2 separate regions of the Homo sapiens genome follow, and region 1 is linked to region 2. The links come from fine-mapping of genetic effects on gene expression. A gene starts in region 2. The other region holds a variant in brackets. All regions are shown on one strand. Distances are between the middles of the regions.

Evidence for each region.
Region 1: its variant is fine-mapped to the expression of EPHA5 in tibial nerve (GTEx, PIP above 0.99).

What each region holds. Positions count from the first base shown.
Region 1 is chr4:65,523,922-65,531,921 of GRCh38, reverse strand. The region is part of intron 3 of EPHA5 (EPH receptor A5); the gene reads left to right. Among named protein-coding and RNA genes, the nearest start is that of EPHA5-AS1, 140 kb to the left of the region's middle. The variant G/T (reference allele first, on the strand shown) is at 3,392.
Region 2 is chr4:65,667,010-65,676,482 of GRCh38, reverse strand. It overlaps EPHA5 (EPH receptor A5), which reads left to right and starts at 5,994. Exons shown (of 17, transcript NM_001281766.3): 1 at 5,994-6,921. The coding sequence starts at 6,741. It overlaps EPHA5-AS1 (EPHA5 antisense RNA 1), which reads right to left and starts at 6,522. Exons shown (of 4, transcript NR_034138.1): 1 at 5,810-6,522; 2 at 4,602-4,707. RefSeq lists an enhancer at 7,845-8,376.

The sequences.
Region 1 (8,000 bases), 140 kb after region 2:
TAGGCTTATGTATTCATTAGAACTAGTTTTGCTTAATACAAGTGAAAGCCCAAAGACCTAGGTAGGTGAAATTTATTTATTTTTTCATGTAAAAGAAGCCTGAGAGTTACTAAGCACAAGACTGATATGGTACCTCTTTATCATCAGATTCCTGGATCATTGTCATTCTGCAAAGACATCTCAGTATATCCTCTTTATGATCAGATTCCTGGATCATGGTCATTCTGCAAAGACATCTCAGTATATCCTCTTTATGATCAGATTCCTGGATCATTGTCATTCTGCAAAGACATCTCAGTATATCCTCTTTATCATCAGATTCCTGGATCATTGTCATTCTGCAAAGACATCTCAGTATATCCTCTTTATGATCAGATTCCTGGATCATGGTCATTCTGCAAAGACATCTCAGTATATCCTCTTTATGATCAGATTCCTGGATCATGGTCATTCTGCAAAGACATCTCAGTATATAGCTTTCATTCTTAAAGAAACTCCTGTTCTAGCCCTGCATGACTTCTGGATCACCAAACATCAACTCCACTTTCCAGGGAGGAAGGAGGAAAGGGTAAAAATGAAAAAAAAGGCCGGGCGCGGTGGCTCACGCCTGTAATCCCAGCACTTTGGGAGGCCGAGGCGGGTGGATCATGAGGTCAGGAGATCGAGACCATCCTGGCTAACAAGGTGAAACCCCGTCTCTACTAAAAATACAAAAAATTAGCCGGGCGCGGTGGCGGGCGCCTGTAGTCCCAGCTACTCGGGAGGCTGAGGCAGGAGAATGGCGTGAACCCGGGAAGCGGAGCTTGCAGTGAGCCGAGATTGCGCCACTGCAGTCCGCAGTCCGGCCTGGGCGACAGAGCGAGACTCCGTCTCAAAAAAATAAAAAAATAAAAAAAATAAAAAAAATAAAAAAAATAAAAAAAAATCCATCCAGCTAAATCAGCACCCTTTAAAGCAAATTCCTGGAAGCAACATACGACTATTATACTTTCACTTATATCTCATTGAATTCTCTCCACCTCTATTCTGCAAGGAGAGGTGATAAATGTCAGCTTATTGTTGGACACACTGTTACATCCAATATAGAGATTCTGTTCCTAAGCAAAAAGGAAAGAATGGGTAGTGGATAGGCATCTGGCTGTATTCACCATAGTACTATTATCCATTTCAATTCATAATACCTATATTAAGAAGCTGAGGCTTAGGAGAGGTCAGGTTAGTTCTATAAAATCAGAAACAAGAAAATTATCAGAAGTCTGTCATTCAGAAATTGCCTTACACCCCATTTTCTTCGCTATCCACATAAGCTATGATGCTAATATAGTTTCTCAATTTATGCTGGATTTCTACAATTTATTCAACAATTTCTATAATTTACACTGAATTTCTAACTGACCATACATTCAAAGAATCCTTAGTTCTCTGTTGACCATATTATTCCTTTGTGCTCCTGTACAAACACACACAACAAACACATCATAAACACGCACACACACACACACACACAAATGTACACCTGTTTACATACATATATACGATAGCTTAGTATTTTCTGCCAATTGGATTTTAAGTTTATTTGTCTTATTTTTAAAGTCTTTAATCTTTATTTTCAGAATCAACTGCTCATAGTAACAGCCGTTAAATCTATGCTCTGGTAATCTCTTTATTTCACCTGAGCCAAGATTATGTTTTTTCTATTACTGGGCATAGCTCTAATCCCAGTAGTTCCATATATTTTTTCTATAAAAGTTGTTCTTGAGTTTCCTCCCCAAAATAGTTTGAACTAAATGTAATAATCCTATTTTTAAGACATCTGTGATAGATTTTCCCCAGCTAGATTATAATAATTTTCAAAACTTATATTATCTCTGTATTCACCTGGCACCTGTCACAACAAAGGACACATAGTTATGTTTTTTAAAATTGTTGATAGATATTGTCATTGCTTTCTCAAATATCTTATTTGTATATATTAGTATAACCTTAGGTATCAATGTTTCCAATGTGTATAATTTCGATATTATTTTAAATTAGAAAATATTGCTTTCTAATGGCCAATAACAACACCCACCAGAACTTTGTAAGAATGGATCATTGAGTTATTTGTAGACTATTAATTATAATTCCAATCATACCAATTTAATGTATTGAGTTCTACCTAGATATATAGTAATAGAGCAAGAGTTATATACGTTCATGTCATTGTTCCAGTTTCATATATGCAAGCACACTTATGTGATTCAGGGTTGAAAACTGAAACCATGACATTTATTAATAAGCAATTGTGTAGATTTATTATGTATCTAACATATGCACAATGAAAATTATATGAGTATGTATGGTGAAATTTCCAGGGGTTTTTACCGTCTTTCTGTCTCTCCCTCTTGGTCTTTCTTTTTTTGTTGTTTTTTTCTTTCTTTCTCTGAAGGATGTACATAACTGAATATGTTGTATTTGTGTGTGTGCATATAATATGCATTTGTGTGTGTGCATATAATATGCATACGTATGCACACAGATAAACATAGGTATACATATATGTTTATGAGACTCAAAGGAAACAATAAATTTATTTATATTAAGGTTAGTAGATCAGCATAATCATTAATTTGTATAACTTGATGATGCAAAAATTAGGCTTTGAGAAGCCATTCCAAACATTAGACCACTGTTTGGGGATTTGAAAGATTGTGGATTTTTGCAAATGTGCTTGTATTCTTTTATTTTTTTTCATAAAAGTTTCTTGAGCACCAATTGTATATCTGATATTCTTTGAATTGCGTTTATTATGTCTTATACTATAGTTGTTTTAAAAGAAAATTTATTACATTCACTATGCAACCAATTTTTGAAACTGTGAGATGTTTTAATTGAACATAGTTTTTAAACACTCTAAAACCTCAGAAATAACTTCAATATTACCTCAGTGCTTTCCTAGACCATGACTTGCATAGCTGTTTATCACTGACATTGTGGGCAGTGGGTTAATTGTAATTGCATGGTCACCTGGACTATCCTATAATTTGAAGTAGAGTCCTTCTGCTGTGTCAGCCTTGACAGTATATTATTTCCGAGCATTAATGCCAGAATGGTCTTTAAATTGGTTATGGAACGGGGAAAGAAGTGATTTAAGTGCTCGATTTAGTGCACTCCTCTTGCTGTCCGCTTCAGGCCACTTTCCTAGGAATGGCAGAATGTGAGCAGAATTAAAATTCAGATTTAACCAAAGTTGGAAAAAAAATAACATGAAACAAAGGGAAATGAAAGTAATCTCAACTCTACCTATTTGTTGACAAGTACATAGTATGCAAATCACTGGATATCTTGAACTACGTATTTCCCTCTTGGAAATTCGTGAATTAAACAATAAAAGATGGATTTTAATAAACAA[G/T]TGCCTGTACACATTGAATTCTCTACGGATTTTTTTAAGCAACAGGGAAAACTAACGACTTTTTTTTTCTCTTAAGGATAGGAGGAGGGCGGAGGAAGAAGCGAATTAAATATATTTCTTGAGTGCACAAAATGTACTTCAGTGGAAACACTACACTCTTTAAGAAACATATTTTTGTCTTTGCAAAAAATATTACTTAAATTAAGGCACATTATATTTCAGTTTAATTTTAGATTTGTTAGGCTACATTTAGAAGGTGCTCATTTCTTCTGTGATGTTTTGACTCAGAGCACCTATGGTTTTGCCGACGTGTGATGCTTAGCTGAGTTCCCCTTTTATAATTATATTTTGCAAACATCTACAGCAAGCTTTTTCTCTCTCATTATGTAAGAAATGGGTTAGGAAACATTTTGTTATCTAACATTTTCTGGTCAAATTGTTGATAGATTTTATTTCAAGCTGACCATACTTTAAAATTCCAGCCCTATAATAAAACAAAATGTCTGGTAATATTAAACTCTTAAATATTCATTTATTTAACCAAAATGTTTATCCTTAGCAAACTACCACTGGATCAGAAAACCAAATACTGCATGTTCTCACTTATAAGTGGGAGCTAAATGATGAGAACAAACGGACACGTAGAGGGGAACAACACTCACTGGGGCCTTTCGGAGAGTGGAGAATGGGAGGAGGGAGAGAATCAGGAAAAACAATTAGTGGACACCGGGCTTAATACCTAAGTGATGAAATGACCTGTACGATAGCCCTCCATGACACAAGTTTACCTGTGTAACAAACCTGCACTTGAACCCCTGCACTTAAAATAAAAGTTAAAAAATAATATTAATAAAGATACCCAGAACTTTACTTCCTAGTATGTTCCAGTAGCCGGCAGTTATTATGCTCAGATTTTTCTACCAAATCATAGGAGTTAGTGGTTGAAAATATAGATCTAATTTAAAAAAGAAATGCTTAAGACATTTTTCATTCTTCTTGCATTTTAAAAGTAGAGACTCTACTTCTTATTCTGTCATAAACCTTTCCAAACGTAAACATTATCCTGAAGTTATGACTTTTTGTACTCCATGTATTTGCTCTGTGTGTGTCTATCGCTAATTCAGAACATATTATTGTTTTGTTGGTTTCAAACTTTATGGAATTGACAAATATTTCACGTATAACTTGACAACTTTTACTGTCAGCATTATTTTTCATCGTTTGTCACTTTGGTGAATGTAGAACTAATTTAATTTCATTGCAATGTAGTATTCTATTATAGGTTCTTTCTAATTTTTTCGCTATTGCAAGTAATAACACAATAAGCATTTTAATATATGGCTCAACATATATGTGAATGTTAGTATAGTAAATATGCAGAAAGGTAAAATTTAGGCAGATACTGCCAAATGTCTTCCCAAAGTGTGTTTGTCCTAAGCACTATATACAAATTCTCTTTTTATCACTTTTCCACAAACACTGGGCAATATGAATATTTTAAATGATTTTTAGTCTGATTTATTTGAAATGGTAACTACATTTACACTTACCCATTTAGAGGAAAGAATGAGGATCTCTTTTATGTTTAGTAGCATTAGATTTTTTTATTTTCTAAAATTTCTGTTAATGTGATTTGGAAATTTATCACTAAGATCAATTGCCTTTTATTGAAAATAAAAAAGCAGATAAAAAGGAAGAAAATGAGGGAGATGCTGCAGTTTTCTAAGAAGGTAGACGTGAGACTGTAGAAACCTTGTAGCCATTCCATGCAGTTGTTATATGAGTGATATAATCTACACATATGCAAAGTTTGGCTCTCATGACATTTTGGTGACCTTAAGTTGATGTCAGAGATCAGGCTTAATTTATTGCTCTAAATGATTTGAGCTCATGTAGATACTTACTATAACAAACAATGGAAATTTACTAAATAGGAAATTGCTTGGCCATTAACTTATCTTATTTTACACCCTAATATTCTAAACCTATGAAATAAAAAATATCTGATAAAACACAAGAAATAAAACTATTTTGAGACCATGATAATTCAATGAAATCAAATTTTTAATTTTTTGTAAAGACAGATTTAAATTTTATCATGAGCCTAATATATAGCCTTTTATATATGAGGCTGGAACATTTTCACACAATGTTTTGTGCCTCTTGCAATTTAATTATAGCCAGCATAAAAGGATTCTAGACCTTGAACTATTTGTGGTTGGATACTCTGTCTTGTTGCTTTTTGGGTTCCTGGTATTTGGCATAGTCACGTTATGTCAATCATATGTACTGAAAAGTCTGGGACAATTATAGTCCTTTCCCTTTATATCCATGTAGTATCAATAGTGACCCTTTTTACTATTAGAATTGTCCCAACAGACATCAATTTATCTGATTTGATAAATGAAACATTGAAAACAATATTTGATATATGCAAAACAGTAATACCTACCATCAATTGAATAACATGTGCCCGGTATTGGGCTAAATACTGATAGGATTTATTTCAATCATAAGATGAAATTGACAGCAAGGAAACTGTTATTCAGAGAGTGTAATTTGGGCTAAGTAACTGACAGAATCATTAAAGGAAATGTTCATCTCTTTATAATCAGCGCCTGAGACAGCGACCCCTACCAAAAGATTTTTAAAAGTCTTTGTTCATTGTTTGAGAAACAGAAATACAGATTCTGAAAAAATCCCATGGTACTTGTTTGAAGGAAAGAAATAGAAACATTTGATAAGCTATAAATTTTGTTATTCTTATACCACTCCTAGATCTGTACATTCATGGTTTATTCATGCCAGGGGGCTTTTCTTTGAGAAAATGATGAGTCTTTGTTTTCAGTAAGGTTCTTGTGTTTTTATTTCTTTATGTTTTTCATTTGAGAAAGTCTGTTGGTTTAAATGTGAACACTTTAAGGCAGAAATCACTGCTCTTTTGAGTCTAGTAAATAGCTTTCCAATGGTTCCAATGGGTGCAGTAGGTTACTTAAATGGGCCGCAGATGTGTATCTGTACAATTTAAGAGCAGGAAGAGACTTGTAGCAAACATTGATCCCCACTGTAGACAGGGGAAAAAAATACATTGTATGAAAATGTTCCAGCCTCATATATAAAAGGCTATATATTAGATTCATGATAAAATTTAAATCTGTCTTTAAAAATTTTGTTATCATTTCATGGTCCTGGGACAAAATAATTAAAGACTTGTGAATGAATGAATGAAATTATATTAAATTATTTCTCTTTTATAGCAACAGTCATAGAGGGAACTTTAAAAATAAATTATAGTATTTCCTGCCAAATGCCACTCCTTTAATATAGCTTTTAATATTATTAAAAAGAGATAACTAGTTAATAGTTAATAATCTTTCAGTAGATGGAAAATTGAAGAATTATAAGTTTTAATATATCTGTTATTACCTTCAAATACAGGGTTTTCTTAAGGCATGAGATATACACCATAAGACTATACATGAAATTTAAAAGATGATAGAATATGGTAGATATTTCTAAGAAAGGAAAACAATCAGACACTGACTCACAAAAAGATGTGACTTTTTAATGATACGTGTCATTATGGAACAGAGCAGATCTTTCTTTGAAGGATGAGATACTTGTAAACACAAAACTCAGGAGCCCATCCTTTGGTTTGTAGAAACAACTACTAGATCTGCCATATTTACTTATATACTCAGGTTTCAGCTGCCATACAATCTGTTATTTTTCTTGGAAAAATTATTGGTGTCAGTACTCTAAAAACTTCTTCATTCATATGGGAAATGTCCAGGATTTTATTCAAAATTTAAACGTACTGAAATGGCACAGTTTATAAAAATCATAAAGTGTGCTATGTATGCACTTGCAAATATTTAACTTCCTTCATCTAGAAGCTATTTAATAATACTTCCTTTCTCTAGGAGTTATTTAATAATACTTCATTTGACTAATTTAAGTTATATTTTTCTGTTTCTAAACAGGGATGTTGGAATACCATCCAACATTAATCTGGTCTTCTAGGAACTTATAGTTTGGAGAGAGAAAACATAGAATATTGATAAGAACTAAACAATGTGATATGTAAGTTGGTATGTAAATGTACAGACTATGAAGAGCATAAGAATGTGTTTGTTAGAGTATAAAAATATAAGGCAACAATAAAGGATATTATATGAACAATTTGGAAGAAACACATTTTTGTCTACATAGTCATCTCTGGCTAGTTAGACAAAGCACAGTATCTTTTTTACTTTGTAGACTTTGTCTATAGACTTATTCTCCCTTTATTCGGTCACTTTGAAACAGTATACCTTTTAAAAAATTGTACCCATACATGTTTACATTATAGTGCTCTAAATTCTCTGTAAAAATCTCATTCCTCTTGTTTGATTACTTAATAACTGTAGCCAATCAGGAATATAGTAAAAGAAAAAATATAATGAAGTATATGGTGAAGCAATGTTGCCATTAGTAAAATTTTTACATATTTTCAACTGCTTGGAAGGAGAGACCAAGTCGTTCTTCTAGTTCATTGTTTTGAATTACTTCTAGGATTTTCATCATTTGATATTTACATCTAAGCTTTCAAAGAGCTTTTATGGACCTG
Region 2 (9,473 bases):
TAGCTCTTCAAACTTAAAAAAGTTTGCTTTTATTAGCCAGGCTTTATATATATATATGTGTGTGTGTATATATATATACACACACACACACACACACACACACACATATATATATTTATATACATATGTTTATTTATAAATTTATATATAAATATATATATAAAATATATATATTTGTATATATTTATATATATCTCTCTTTATATATCTTTATATATATGTAAAGATAGCTTTAAATATCAAAGTGAAAGTATTATATATATATATATTCTCATATTTAAATGGTCCTCCTGGGCTTTGTGGCTCACGCCTGTAATCTCAGTCTTTTGGGAGGCTGAGGTGGGAGGATGGTTTGAGGCCAGGAGTTCAAGACCTGCCTGGACAAAGTGAGATACCCATCTCTATAAAAAATTTAAAAAAATTAGCCAGGTATAGTACTGCAAGCCTGTAGTGCCAGCCCAGGAGTTCAAGGTTACAGTGAGCTCTGATTGCACTACTGCACTCCAGCCTGGTGACAGAGTGTCTGTCTCAATAAATAAATAAATAAATAAATAAAATTTTTAAAATGATCCCATAATATTCTATTATATAAATATACTATAATATATTAACCATTTCGTATTAAAGATTAGAACACTTCTGGTTTTTATCAGTTAAAAATACCACTATGTTTAATCTTTTGGCCCATTTTAATTTACTCACAATATAAAAAATGTAATTGCTAGATCTGAAACTATGCATACCTTAAAAGCACTTGATGTTATTTTAAAACAACGATAATAAAGATGTTTCAGATTAACATCCCACGAACAGCATATCAGAGTACATGAGTTTATCACTGCTAACTTTTAGCTGGAAGCTTGTTCAATAGACAATGAACAGTGGTATCAAAAGCCTGGGCTGGACTCCCGGCTACTAGGGAGGCTGTATTCCTGGCTACGTGGGAGGCTGACATAGGAGTATCACTGCAGGCCAGGAGTTCCAGGCTGCAGTGAGCTATGATCCAGCCATTGCACTCTATACACTCTAGCCTGGGCAACAGAGGGAGACTCTGTCTCAAAAAAATAAATAAATAAAAAAATCCTAGTTGCATATGTACCCCTTTATTATTTATGCTATTGAAAAAAATTGATCAGTTTTCCCCTAGCAAATTATAGCAATTATTTTATAAAATATGTTTTTGTAGGAGTAGATTAGCTATCAATTTCAAGTCACATATCAACTGAGATTAATAAACAGTTCTCTGAATGTGAAAAATATTACAGCTTATTTTTCACATATTTGCAAATACTTTTGGAGTCCAGAAAACAGGTTAGAATAGGTAGAATTTTAACTCTAACAGTAGTGTTATTTCAATTTTCTGACTCTTATGTCCACACATTTCCTACTTTTTCAGTCCCAAAAGTCCGTATTATCCCAGCATTCACAACTTCATCTGATGCCAGTTATCCAAGATGCTGGATGCAAACAATAACCAAAGAATTTCCTGGCAAGTCAATTTGGCTCATCATAAACTCTAGTAGCCTTGGCCTCATGCTATGCTGCAACATCTGCAATCCTAGCACATTGATGAAAGAATGATTAAAGAAGAAACCACCACCATCAACAATCACCATGTCTCTTCGGCTCACTGTAATTCATCTGAACATCTTATTCTTTCTTCTTTGCTACATAACTTCCTATTAATAATCACGAACAGTGTGACAACTTTATTCTGTTCTCAATATTGATAGAAAAGAGATAAAAAGAGTGCTGATTGTGATATGGACATCTTTAATAAGTGAAATTTCTGATAAGTAAGCATTTCATGTATTGTTAAGTTATAAAATACTTTCTATATTTATATCCTCATTAATTTATTAAAATGGTATTAATGCATTTTTTAATTGAACACGCATCTGATAACTTGTTAAATTTAAAAATAATTTAACTTCACATTAATAGGTAGAAATGTGAGTCATTAGCAAAAAGAAGAGATTCTAGGACTTCAGGAAAAAAATGCTTAAGAAATAACACTAAACAAAAAATATTTGATGTTTTATGTTCATTAACTTAAGACATAATACACACAATTATGGATACATTACAATATTATCTATGTTGTGAACTTCAAGAGTTATTGATTGCTTAAATATATTTTAGTCAATATTTACCTTTGAGATCAAAATAATTAATATCACTGTACATCTATCCTCTTTATAAAATTATGAATCTGAAAACTTAACTTCTTTAGGGTATCTTATCGTTTCATTAGGGTATCATATAATTTCTCATCTAAAATCTACCATGGGTTAAAATTTTGCTTTGCTTGTATTTTTCACCAAATTCCCCCAAAGAAAGAATCTAGCTAAGTGACAAAAATATTTAAAACTGATTTGTAAAAAATTGCTACAATTATATGAGGAAAAATGTTCTTGAGTTTATGGAGTTTTATTTAAATTGTTTTAGTAAAGACTGTTGCTTATATTTTTTACCATGGTTTAAAGGGGCTGTGTGCCATGTGTTGAGCTACTATTATCTGACCACAGACGTCAATCTTGTTATTTCCTTGATTTGGTCCATTGTCTTCATTGTACACAAACAAATCGTGTGCATGTTTTTATGTACACGAAACAGTATTTTTCTTTAAGTAATGCTTGCTTATGATCCTTCATTTCTTGTTTTCTCCTATTCATTTATCTGACCTATACTACCTATTTGGAAAATCGCTTTTAGACTTAAACCTGAAAATTAAAATATTTTCATGTATTCATTGCTCCCATTCATGCAGAATTTTGGGGTAGTTCTCTTTTTCTGATCAACCTGGCTATCAAATTTATTCTTTACTTCTGTTATGTAGGACTTTTCTCCAATAGACTCAATCCCATGGGTGAAAGTTTCCGTGTCTTACCAGCTGTGAGACTACTTGGATCACCTAATCTCATTTCCTCAGTTTTCTCATCATTAACATGGGGATAATAATTACACCAACATCAGGGTTGAAGTGTCAGCATTAAGTAAAATAGTTAAGGTAAAAACGTCACATAATGCTTTACACATAGCAAATCTTCAGGAAAAACTAGCAAGGCTTTCTGTCAAAATTGCTTTTCTTGAATCTTTGAATGCAGGGAAGATACATTTGGGCTTATTGATACACTGAACCTAACTATAATATTAAAACTTTTTATGAGGTTAGTAAACTTTCAAGGCACCTTATCAAGGTTACTTTGAATATCCTTCCTTCAGGAATACTTAGTACTGAAGTCACACAAAAGCACAGATCTTGGGAGACACTAACCACTTGCATCTTTTAAGGTCATAGTAGCTATTCCAAGAAATGAGAAATGCAAACAATAGGGCACCAAAACCAATATTGATGGCATGGCCTTTTGTTGTGCAAAACAATAAGTATAAAAGAAAAATATAAACCAAATCTAGTTTTCATGCAATGCCATGGTTCAATGTAATTGTGTTAAAATAAAAAGTATTAATATGCCAAGACATCAACACGTGGCCAAATGTGAATCTCCTTTGAGCTTGAAGTCCAAGTCAAACCACCATCATTACCTTTTCTGATTAACCCTCCTTAGATCAAAAAATGATTTTCATTGTTGTCATCAGAACTTCATGAACTTTACAGCTTCAATGAACTTTACAGCTGTTCATTCTTTCAGAGATGTGTAATCAATATTATTAAAGAACTATGAGAAAGATGGCTGCAATTTAAGGTGGAGAATACAAAGAATTTTGCTTTCTGTATTCTCAATCATGTAACTTAGCTATGTTGGGAGAAGATAACACAATTATGCCCATGCTGACCAGCGTCCCAGGTTTTCTTTGACAAACCAGATTTAAATTCTGTCTTTCTTCTCTTTAGATATAGTTAGACAATTTTATTCCACCTTTGATTCAGAAAATATTGGCATTGTGTTGATTTATGTAAAGCTATGAGTACTTTGAGGAGGAGAACGAAGTAACTTTTTTGTTGAGAAAAGAAGAATTTAATCTTGAGTGCCTGGCTCTCCTAGGACACTGGGTATGATTTAGATGACAGTAGTGTGTGTGTGTGTGTGTGTGTGTGTGTGTGTGTGTGTTGTGGTGGGGTGAGGTGGGGGGCGGATAAATATTTCCAGAGGTGGGATTTCTTTAGAATGGAATGACAGGTAGAAAAATCAGAGAGGCATGAGGTAATTTAGGGGAAAAATGAGTTTAACATTGTAGTATAGAATAAAAAATATATTTAAACCATTTGTAGTAGAAGGCTTTAAATTCTAGGCTGAAAAATTTGGTTATTTTGTGGCCAATAGTAAATAATTGGAGATAGATGAACAGGGTAGTCACATAGACATGCAACCAACGGAAGGGAAGAAGGCTTGAAGATTGTCTTCTCCAAATTCCTCATTTTACTGATGAGGATACTGAAGCCTGTAGAAGTAAAGGAACGAGCTCAAAGCCCCATTAAACTCATATTAGTTTTACTACATATTTCTGGGCTTTAGATATCGTAGTTGGTATTCTGCTTAAATATTTTTAAGTAACTCAATTATAATTGTAGGGGAGAGGGGAGCTTACATTTTGAATGGTCCTCAAATAGAAACATAAATTTTAACTTTCCATCTCACCCGTGAGGCTTTTTGCCAAACTGAGAAACTGATTCACTGCTCTTCCTCTAAATTTGCTTCATCCATTCGGAGCACATTATAATAAAAAGAACCTGCTTTCAGACTTCTGGTGCCAAAACATTTCAGGAAAAAAAGAAATCAAAGATGAGCTTTCACCTCTTTACAAAATTGCATCACTGCTGCTTTATTCTTTCATCTTTATTGCAAATATTTAAACAAAAAACAAATGTCACCAGCTAAAGATAGTGAGGAATTTATTGTGGAGACAAACAAGGCTCTAGATATGTCAAAACTGGTGAGCTGACTCACCTTTATTAGGTGTGAACGGAAGCCCAAGCTTTACAGTGGTTACTATACATGAAATTAAATGAGATATCTTTCTTCTATAATCAGACCTTTCTGTAAGTGCTTTCTCTGCAGCCTTTTGTTTTTAAATGCCTGTGTACTAAAATTGTCCTTCAAATGTATCTCTTTGAAAGAATGAATAAATCGAGGGAATATACTAAAGCAAGAAAAGACATAATAGAGGTGAAGCATAGAAAGTTGATTGTTTTAACTGTTTTTTTTTTCACTGTTTGTAAATCTCCCAATGCTATAGGGCACAATCAATTAAAATAATTAATTTTTCAAAACCCTGAATTTATTTGACCGAGGCTAATTTCACTGGAATGTATGTCGTGTATCTGCATATCGTCCAATTTCTAAAATACTAAAACATTTTATCAATGAAATAAATGAATTAAATCGCCACCTATGAAAGTACCTGGCACACTACAAATCTCAATAGTCAAATTCTTTGACTCCTTGAAATCTCAAACAGAGCTACCGCCTCTTTATTTACTCTACAATTTACTTCTGAAGAAAACATTGAGTAATTATCCTATTCCAGCCATCAAAGTATGGGAAGAACAGAAAGAGTCAGCAGCGGTAAGCGGTATGGGTGTTTAAGAAACTAGCCACGGACCAGCAGAGCCTGCGAATGCGCGGCGATGTGACGACAAGGTTGTTGATGCCACAGCCTGTGAGGGACAGCAGGCAAGATGCCAAACGGAGGGACCCGCGTCTCTAAGGGCCGCCGGCTGAGCTGGGGCTGATCTCCCTTCCGCCTCCCGGGAACCCCAGTCCTCGCCAGCGTCGTCAGGATTCCTTGCCCTAATTATCCCGGGAGGAAGACGCGCCTTTCCCGGAGACCGCTAGGCAACACTCACCAAGGCAGCCTCCAGATTACTTCCCTCCGTGGGTGTGTGACTTCGTCGAAGCAACTCACACTTACAGTAGATTCTCACTGGCGAGGCTGCGAGCAGCAGAGGGCGGGGGAGCTGGGAAGAGGAGGAGGGAAGGAGGGTGGGAGGCGCTGAGCTGGGAGGCAGAGGAGACGCCGGAGCTCCAGACACAGCAGGAGCGCGCCTTGGCGGTGCAGTTTCAACCTCGACTTCGCAGCCGCGCACACACCGCCTGCTCCCCGAGCAGCGGGAACCGCAGCAGCTCCTGGGCCGCCGCAGCGCAGCTCCGCGCTCCTACCGGCCGGCAGCCGTCAGTCCCTCCCCTCTTCAGCACTCAGCCCGCAGCTATTTCCTTCTGCCAGTCTCTTTGAACTCTGGATCTTTGCTTTTGCTCGCTGCTCTCCTGTTTTTCATTCTCCACATTTTCTCAAGTCCTCTTTCTTTATCCTTAGCCACCCTGCTTTTTTCCTCCTTTTTTAAAAAATCGGAGATTTCGTCTTAAAATGATTTGCCTTCCTTACCTTCGTCCATTTCAACACTGAAGGCTGCAAAGAACCTTCACCTTTCCCCTAGTGGTATTTAAAAATTCTCAATCCGTAAAAAGTCTTTTTGAAAGGCAAAGGAACAGGACCCAGGACCCTCTCGACACCCTTGATCCGAGTCCAGATCTGCACTAGCAACCAGAACTAATATTTCATTTAACCCCACCAAAGGGGGAGGCGAGAGGAGCCAGAAGCAAACTTCAGCTGTCTCAGCCGGATCCGTGGTTCCTACATTTGGAGGAGCCGCGTGCCAGAAGGCGTAGGACCCCAAGGGGGGACAAGGAGGACTCCCGAGTCTCCCTTCGCCGCTCTGCGAGGCCGAAGCGGTGGACTGAGCCGCTCGGGACAGCGGCACCGGAGGAGGCTCGGAGAAGATGCGGGGCTCGGGGCCCCGGGGTGCGGGACGCCGGCGGCCCCCAAGCGGCGGCGGCGACACCCCCATCACCCCAGCGTCCCTGGCCGGCTGCTACTCTGCACCTCGACGGGCTCCCCTCTGGACGTGCCTTCTCCTGTGCGCCGCACTCCGGACCCTCCTGGCCAGCCCCAGCAACGAAGGTAGGGAGATGGGGGTGGGGACCGTGGCGACCTGGGGCGGAGGGGCTAGGCGGGGCCTGGGAGTTCAGGTCTCAGCGCGCTGGACGCTGCTGCTGCAGACTAAATCGCAGTCTCATCTCAAATTGGTATTTGTCGTCCCCTTCCACTGGCCTTTTCGCTCCCCTCTGCGGTTTTTGGTTGCATTGTTTGACGTTAGCTGCGGAGTGCTGGGCAAGGAACATGCGTGTGGACAGAGGCTGGTTGGGGGGCTGGGAAGGTGGAAAACCTTGGGGGAAAGGAGGTCGAGGCCTCCTTTGGGGAATGGAGGCCCGTTCCAGGGGGATGGGTGCGGCTGGGCCTCACTTAAGGCGCGTGGGGAAGTGACATTTCGGGCTTGAAGGAGTGGGAACTGTTGGAAGCTCAGTGACAAGGATCTCTGGAGCAGTGGGGCTTTTAGAAACCGTTATTTGAGGCCAGTGATGGGAAACGTTGTGGGGGTGGCTGGATGCTTTTATTTTTGGGGAAAGTGCCTGCTGGGAGCTGTTATTTAGGGCATCACCAGCTGCTATTCTGGGGTGGGTGGCAGGAGCTTTTATTTCTCGTGGGAGGGGTATAGCGAAGGACAGAAGGCGCCCCACACAGTTGGGTGCCCTTCTTCTTGGGGGAGTTCATTGTCACACTCAAGCCAAGGTGGAAGAAGGCGAGAAGGTGGGATGCCGCGGCAGGAGGGGTGAGGGGGAGTGTCGCTGCTAGGAAGTTGCCGCTAAAACCCACCTGGGCATGTCTTAAAGACGGAAAAGACCTGCTCTGGCCAGCACCTGATCCAGGAGTACCCAGTCCCCCTCCCTACCCCCAATCCTGTGCTCCAGACCCAGAATACTGTCCCTGCCTTTTTCTGGGAGAGTAGAGCTGGCGCGGGAGCAACACCTGTGTCGCTCTTCGTGCTCCCGGAACAGTGCTCAGCCCCTCTGTCCGCCTGCCTCTTGGACCTGAGACCTCTGCCTTTGGGTCCCCTCCAGCAGCGCTTGCTCCTCTCCCACACCCGGACTGAGCTCGGGTCTCAGCCCAAGGGCGCATTACTCGCGGAGGGGCGGGAACAGTATCTCAGATCCAGATCTGTCAGCTCCACCATGAAAACATAGAAAAACCTACCCACTTTGGCTAGAATGGTGAGGTTTCGGTTTGGGGCTGTGGATGCGACGCGTGAGGCTCAAAACCTTGCAGAAATTCCTTCCACTCCTGGGCACGGGACACTAGACCGGAAAGATGAAGCAGCAGTGGTGGAGTCGTGTGTGTCCTCGTGACTTGCATGGGTTCAGTCTCCGCTGTAGGAGAAGGCGCTGAGCTGATATCCCAGCAATGCCAGCTCTAAAGGAAGGGTGTGAAAGCAGGGCAGATAGAGGCTCCCCTGCCCTCATCCCATGAACTTTCTCTTTAACCTCTAAGTTTATTTTTTAAACGCTAATTAAAGGCTTATGTGTATTTATCTGCATTTATCTATATACATATATATAGCTATCTCTCATGCTTAAGCCAAACAATTGGGTATTTTCCCTTTCTGATAAAGTTGAAAAAATGTTTTTGAGAGTCGTAGACCTTTTATTAACACCTTATGTTAAATTCATTCTGTTAGACGTCTGGAGGATTATAACAGCTTTGGAGGAGGCTCTTTTATTAACTGTCTTATTCCACCGAAAGGGGCATCCTCGTTTGAATTTGAAGAGGTTTAACAGTAATATCATTCATCCTTTCGTGTTTCCGTTAGATTTCAAGTCCTCTCTCCAGGTGTGATGGAAGGGGAGAACTTAGGTGGAGATGAAAGGGAGTCGCTCTTGGTTAGAAAATTGGAAGAATTCAATTCTCAGGGAGAGTGACACTGAATGGGAACAAGAGCCAAGACTGTGCAGGGAGGAAGAGGCAGAAGGAAAGAGAAGGAAGGAGAAATAGCGCCGGTCTCCTAAGGTGTTGAAGGCAGAGCTGGAATCTTGTGGAACACAGCCTGGCTGTTGTTACAGATTTAACACCCACAGATTGTATTGTCTTACCTCATCTAGTCCGTCACACAGCAAAACTTGGACTACACGGAGATGGGGCTTGGGGATCTAATCAAAAATGAGATGTACCTTACCACCTGGTGCTCTGAAAAAAGCCTGCTGTTTGGGGCACATTTTGTAATATGTCACTATTATACTTAATTGGAAATAAAATTGTGTAAATATCTATGTCATTATCTAATTCATCCTATCTCAGCTGAGCAGTTTTCCATCTTTCCACCTAGTATCCTAGATCTTTATTTCTGCTCTGTGAAATATAGATTCTTCTCTTCTTGTTTCTCCATGCTATTGCTATAAATTGAGCAGCAGAGTGTATTAAAATATTTATTTATGCTAAAATATTCATAAAATGTTTGGGCTTTTTTAGAGATTCAGATTAGAGTTTTCCAATTTGTTTGTTTGCTTCTGGAGGGACTTTGGAAGGTCAGGGGGCAGAAAGATTTCATGTATATGCTGAACTCATTAATCACTTTTTCTCATATAATTTGACTTCTGCAATCTATAGATGCTTAGTGATTT